2 separate regions of the Homo sapiens genome follow, and region 2 is linked to region 1. Evidence: fine-mapped expression QTL. A gene starts in region 1. The other region holds a variant in brackets. All regions are shown on one strand. Distances are between the middles of the regions.

The links. PIP is the estimated chance that this variant, and not a neighbour inherited with it, causes the effect.
Region 2: its variant is fine-mapped to the expression of ERO1B in monocytes (TOPMed, PIP above 0.99).

What each region holds. Positions count from the first base shown.
Region 1 is chr1:236,280,237-236,283,147 of GRCh38, reverse strand. It overlaps ERO1B (endoplasmic reticulum oxidoreductase 1 beta), which reads left to right and starts at 1,190. Exons shown (of 16, transcript NM_019891.4): 1 at 1,190-1,466. The coding sequence starts at 1,365. RefSeq lists silencers at 846-1,435, 1,476-1,525 and an enhancer at 1,596-1,795.
Region 2 is chr1:236,230,171-236,233,081 of GRCh38, reverse strand. It overlaps ERO1B (endoplasmic reticulum oxidoreductase 1 beta), which reads left to right. Exons shown (of 16, transcript NM_019891.4): 9 at 243-254; 10 at 2,832-2,858. The region is part of intron 1 of LOC124904561 (a long non-coding RNA gene); the gene reads right to left. Among named protein-coding and RNA genes, the nearest start is that of ERO1B, 50 kb to the left of the region's middle. The variant A/G (reference allele first, on the strand shown) is at 1,456.

The sequences.
Region 1 (2,911 bases):
TTAGGGTCACAAGAGAAGGCATGTGACGAGGGAAGCAGAGAGAGTGAAGGAGATGTGAAGTCATGAGGTAAGGAATGCAGGTGGCCTCTGGAAGCTGGAAAAGGTAAGGAAACACATTGTCCCTGAGAGCCTCCAAAAGGAACACAGCCCTACAGGTCCATTTTGGACACCTGATCTCCAGTACTATAAGGTAATGAATTTCTTTTGTTGTATGCAACTAAATGTGTGATAGTTTCTTACAGCATCAATGAGAAACTAATACACGCTACATAAACACAAGGGAGATGTATTACTCGTTTTGTAGAAATCAAAGGCATTAATAAAACTAATAGCAGTTACCATTTATTGAGTGCTTCCTAGGTGCTAGGCACTATACTCAGCTCTTTCTGTATCTAATCTTATGTAGCCCTAGAACAAGATATGAGGTGGGAATTAAGGCCCAATAACTAGCTAGAATGTTTTAGAGTTGGGATCTGCGCCCAATCTATGTCACTCTAAGTTTTTTTTTGTTTTACCCCATCCCCATATTTCATCATAAGCCTTTGGGTTTGTCTTCATTCTTTAGCATGCGTTATACTCGCACGTGTCAACCTAGGAGTCGGGCTGGGGCGGGGCAGGAGATGACATCCACATCTAGGGTGCATGAAATTAAAAAAGAGCCGAAGCCATCTCTACAAGTCACAGGTAGCTTACATAGGCACCCACAGCAGATGTGAGGCTACAGAAAAATGAATGAGACAAAGAATACGCTTCAGACCGAAAGTCAAAGATCCCGCACCGTCCGTTCCTAACTCGCCCGCGTACTGGGTGAATCCTAGAGCCTGGCGTCTGCGAGGACTCCAGGAGCGACAGCAGGGACCGACGCAGAGAGGTCCTCAGCCTGGTTTCCCGGAGAAGAGGTCGCCCCGCTTCCCCCGCCCGCACCCCCCGGTGTTTTGGAGGCCCGCGTGGTCCCGCCTCATTGGCCGCCGCGGAGCCCGAGGCCTCGGGGAGGCGGGGCGGCCTTCGCAGTTGTAGTTCCCGAGTCCTCTCGTTCAGCGGCTCCGCCTTCCTGCCGCGGCGCCTAGGCGACCGCCCAGGACCACAACTCCCACAAGGCCCCGCGCTTGGGGGCGTGGCCGAGGAGCCAAGCGAGCCGGGGGCGGGGCCGCCTGGGGGATGAAGTGGGGGCGCTCGCCTTTCCTGCCTCACTCGCAGCTGCCGGGTGTTGGGGAAAGAGTCGCCTGCCTCCGGACTGGAGTGCAGACCTCTGACCCTGGAGTCGCTCGGCCGCTGGGAACCGTCCCCTTGGGTCGTCGCCTGGGCCGCCCGTCGTTCCCCGGCCCCGAGGGGTCCGGCTGGCCGCGGTGTGGGTAGAGGTCAGCATGAGCCAAGGGGTCCGCCGGGCAGGCGCTGGGCAGGGGGTAGCGGCCGCGGTGCAGCTGCTGGTCACCCTGAGCTTCCTGCGGAGCGTCGTCGAGGCGCAGGTAAGCCCGAGTGATAGCGGGCCGGGAACCCCCGGCCGAACACCCGCGGCCGCTACACACGGGCCGCGGCTGTGACGCGGGGAGGGCCGGGCAGGGCCGGGCCAGAAAAGAGGTGATTTCTGGCGAGCAGAAAACCCGGGGAGCAGAGACCTGACCGTCCAGTGCGGGAAACATCTGCGAACCGCCCGCAGGGTGGGGGGACGGCGACACTCCGGGTAATGGCAGTCAAAAGAGGAAGATGGTGACGGTCCCCCTGAGCTGTTTTCGTTTTTTCCTCTCGGATGTGTTAAGCGGCTGGGAGTGTGGCGGGAGATGGGACGGGCATGAACCACCTCGGCTGTCTTGCGAAGGGAGCGAGCGCCCAGAGAAACGGTGACGTCCTTCCCTTCAGGAGTTAGTGAGGGAGGGAGACTGAGAGTTGGGGGCACTCCGCAGACCCCCGAGGCCCCGCCAGGCGCAGGGGATTGGGAGGGGGCAAGACTTCACTCGAACTGTCGGACTAGAGCTTTCTGGGCTTTTACTCTTCCTCGAGCACCTTCCCTTGCTCAAGATTGCTTTATTTTTACCCAGCTGAGCTGTGTCTGCCAAGTGGCATCGCCAGGTAAGTCCCAATACGAGACTGGGGGGGTCTGAGTGGGGCGTTGTGGCTCGTGGATGGAGGCTCTGGCTCTGGCAGTCGTGAGGTGCTGGCTGGTTGTTGATGTGAAGCGATGATTACAAGTGTTCTCAGTGTGCTAGAAATCTGAGGCTTAGCTGACCAGATCCTTTCGCCTTCAGAGAGGTGTTTGCTTCTATTCAGTAGAATTTGAATTGATTGCCAGGTGCTGCTGCTTGTTGTCTGCACCTGCTGCAAGGAGGCAGCACTGCTGAGGGCCAAAAAAATAAAACGAAGGTCTCAGGTGGCCTGATGATGAGGGGAGATGTCATTTGAAGCAATTAGTGCTCATCCAAGAAAAATTGAAGGTGACTCTGAGTGTAACCGTGAAAACATGTTTTTCTGAATTGAGTCACTTTATTTCATGGTTTTATGGTGCCCTGCACTAAATCCCAGAGTGCCTGAATAGTCCGTTTGTGTCTGTGTTTGAACCATAAAAATAAAAGGGGCAAATTTTTGGTATTGGGGAACATGTTAAAATGCAGATTCTCTGGCCCTACCTCCACATGTATTGATTGGATCTGGAATATGGCCCAGATATCAGCATTTTAAACAAACATTGCAAGTACAGTATAACTGTAGCAAAGTTATCTTTTGACTACCTCTTGGACCTCACTTGGAAAACACTGAGATGGAATAGATAGTGGTAATCTGGGCAGACTTACTAAAGTAAATTTTCCAAATTGTCTTTGGCAAAATTATTTTCTAGTCACTAGTTGAGTGTTTCTGAGTGAAATTTACAATTCGATATTTTTCTGAAATGAGAGTTCCCATTTTCTCTTTTTATATA
Region 2 (2,911 bases), 50 kb after region 1:
CACCTTGGCCTCCCAAAGTCCTGGGATTACCGCCGTGAGCCACCACGCCTGGCCAAAATGTGCAAATCTTATACTCTTTGACCTGTATTCTGATTAAGAGGACTCATTTGCAGGGCGTCTACTCAGTGACCAAGGTTTGTGATATAATTAATAGTTTAACAGTTTTAATCTCAAAAAATAGTATTGGGATCTGAGCTATGTAAGACATTTTCTAAAATCTTTTCTATTATTTTCTCTTTTAGGCGAAGATGATGGTGAGCAAAACTCATGTTTGTTTGTTTCAAGTGTGGAGGAAATTTTTTGTAACAATCAGAATTTGATTTTTCCTTTATGGAATTCAAAAGAAAGTATTCCTGTTTTCTAAGAAAATAGCTACTAATGAATGGTGACCAAAAAAAAAAAGATTATTTTATATATATCAAGTTATCCTATGTTAAAAAAAAAAGACCATTTTTCCTAAATGCTTAGTTTGTAAATCAATTCACATTACAAGTTCCCCATTTTCTGGTTATTATATAATTTACTTGAATATGTCCTGAGGAAGTGGGGAGAAGGAGTTAAGGTAGTTTTACCAGATAATTTGTCTTGTGACCTCTTTATTTTCTTATTGACTGAAATTTCTAACCTCAGGTATCAATATAATACTTAATTTGATGACGAGCAATTTATTAACAATTGATTATTGAATGAATGTTGGTTAAAAGATACCCCCAAAATAGCCAAAATAATTATTTCAACTGAATGTTTACCTCTCTGTGTTCAGGGGCACTGATGGGCATTGTCCAGGGTAGGAAGATGTTTAAAACATGGTGCTTTCCCTCTAGGAGCTGAGGATATATAGGATAGTAGGAAAGATAAGCACTGTACATAAACAATGGTAATGAGGTAAAGAAATACTCCATAGATGGTACAAACAGTAGGTGATATATATAGCTCCTTAGAGGAGAAACAGATCGTATCTCACAGGAGCGATGTGGGAAAGCTTACTGGAGGAGGGGTAGCATTTGAGGTGAATTTTGAATAATGGGACAGATTTAGATCCGTACAATTGGATAGTGCATGTTGGAGGAAACAGCATGCAGCTGGGAGTTGAGACAAGTCAGGCATGTTTGGGGAGACAGTAAAGAGACCCTTTTAGTGGTAGGTAAGACTATATAGTGGTAGTTTAAATTAGATTGATAGAGGCCATATTTTTTAGTACGTTGGGTACTAGACTTTTCCTGTTGGCACTTGAGGTGTTTTGAATCACAAGTGATATAATGATAAATGATCCTTACTATATGTTGAATGAATTAATTTGTTAGACGTTTTCATTTTTGTACAAAGTATGAAGACTCTCAGGAGGCAAAGTAATTCCCCACCGTCTAGTTTATCCCTAGACTCCTTACTCAGCTCATCTGAGTGTTCGGTTTTTCTATAATTTCTATCATTCTCAATTTAAAAAAAAACAACATC[A/G]AGGATAGGTAACGCAGGAAGTGCATTAACAATTTTGATTCTTATTGACTGCTCTCTTTTCTTTCTCTTTCCCCAACTCAGAAGAAGGTTACAGGGCCAGGAATGGTTCTTTTTTTTTTTTTTTTTCAAGTGTTTAACATGTTTTGAAATATGTATACATTGTGGAATGGGTATATTGAGCTAATTAGCTCACATACCATTTTTTTGGCGAAAACACTTAAAATCGCAGCAATTTTCAAGAATACAATACGTTGTAATTAACTGTAGTCAGCATGTTCTACAATAAATCTCTTGAACTTACTGCATTTCTTTAACTGAAATTTTGTATCCCTTGACCAGCATCTCCCTGACCCCAGGAATGTTCTTCAGCATTAGTACACAGATTAGTCAAGCCCTTCTGTATTCTATTAACTTTCCTGAAGAATTATATTGAAAATTAAGAGATTTTTTAGCTGTCCCTTAAAACTTATTAGTCTTAGAAAATTGAGGAAATATTTTTAGTTTTATTGGATTAGGAAAAATGGAATAATCAATAGTTGGACGTTTGTGTTAATTATAATTCCTTATTTTCTTGGAATATTTAAAAAGCACTATGGTTGTTATGAAAAGCAAATTTGAGATCGTTAAAATGTTTGCCCTATGTTTTCAGATATTTACACCTTCAATGAATAAGATTTATATACTTTTTTTTTTTAAAAGAGGCAGGATCTTGCTATGTTGCCCAGGTTGGATCCGATCTCCTGGGCTCAAGCAATCCTTCCCCCTCAACCTTCTGAGTTAACTGGGGCTACAGGTCCAAGCCACTGTGGCCAGCTCATATTTTGACTGAAATGTTTTCTTAAAAAATTTAATAGTCAAAATATTTGTAAAAACACTCTCTTAAAGTTACTTAAATTATTTGTAGGTTTTATTTCCTAGAACCATATGGTTATTTTTCTATTTTACCTGAAGCAGTAGACATTTTAGAGAGATTACTTAATCTGTCATAATTTTTTTTTTTTTTTTTTTTTTTTTTGAGACAGGGTCTCACTCTGTCACCCAGGCTGGAGGGCAGTGGTATGATCTCGGCTCACAGCAACCTTAGCCTCCTGGGTCCAAGCAATTCTCCTGCCTCATCCTCCCGAGTAGCTGGATTACAGGCCTGCACCTCCATACCCGGCTAATTTTTTGTATTTTTAGTAGAGATGGGGTTTCGCCATGTTGGCCAGGCTGGTCTTAAACTCCTGGCCTCAAGTGATCAGCCCACCTCGGCCTCCCAAAGTGCTAGGATTATAGGCATGAGCCACCATGCCCTGCAGAAAGATTTTATAAACCTAATTTATTCTACTTTATAAATGACCATATAATGTTTTAATCCACTTTTCTCTCTCTCTCAGGAGAATCATTCTACACATGGCTAGAAGGTAAACAGTCTGTTCTAAATTTATTGGATTTTTTGTTAAAAAATACTGATTTA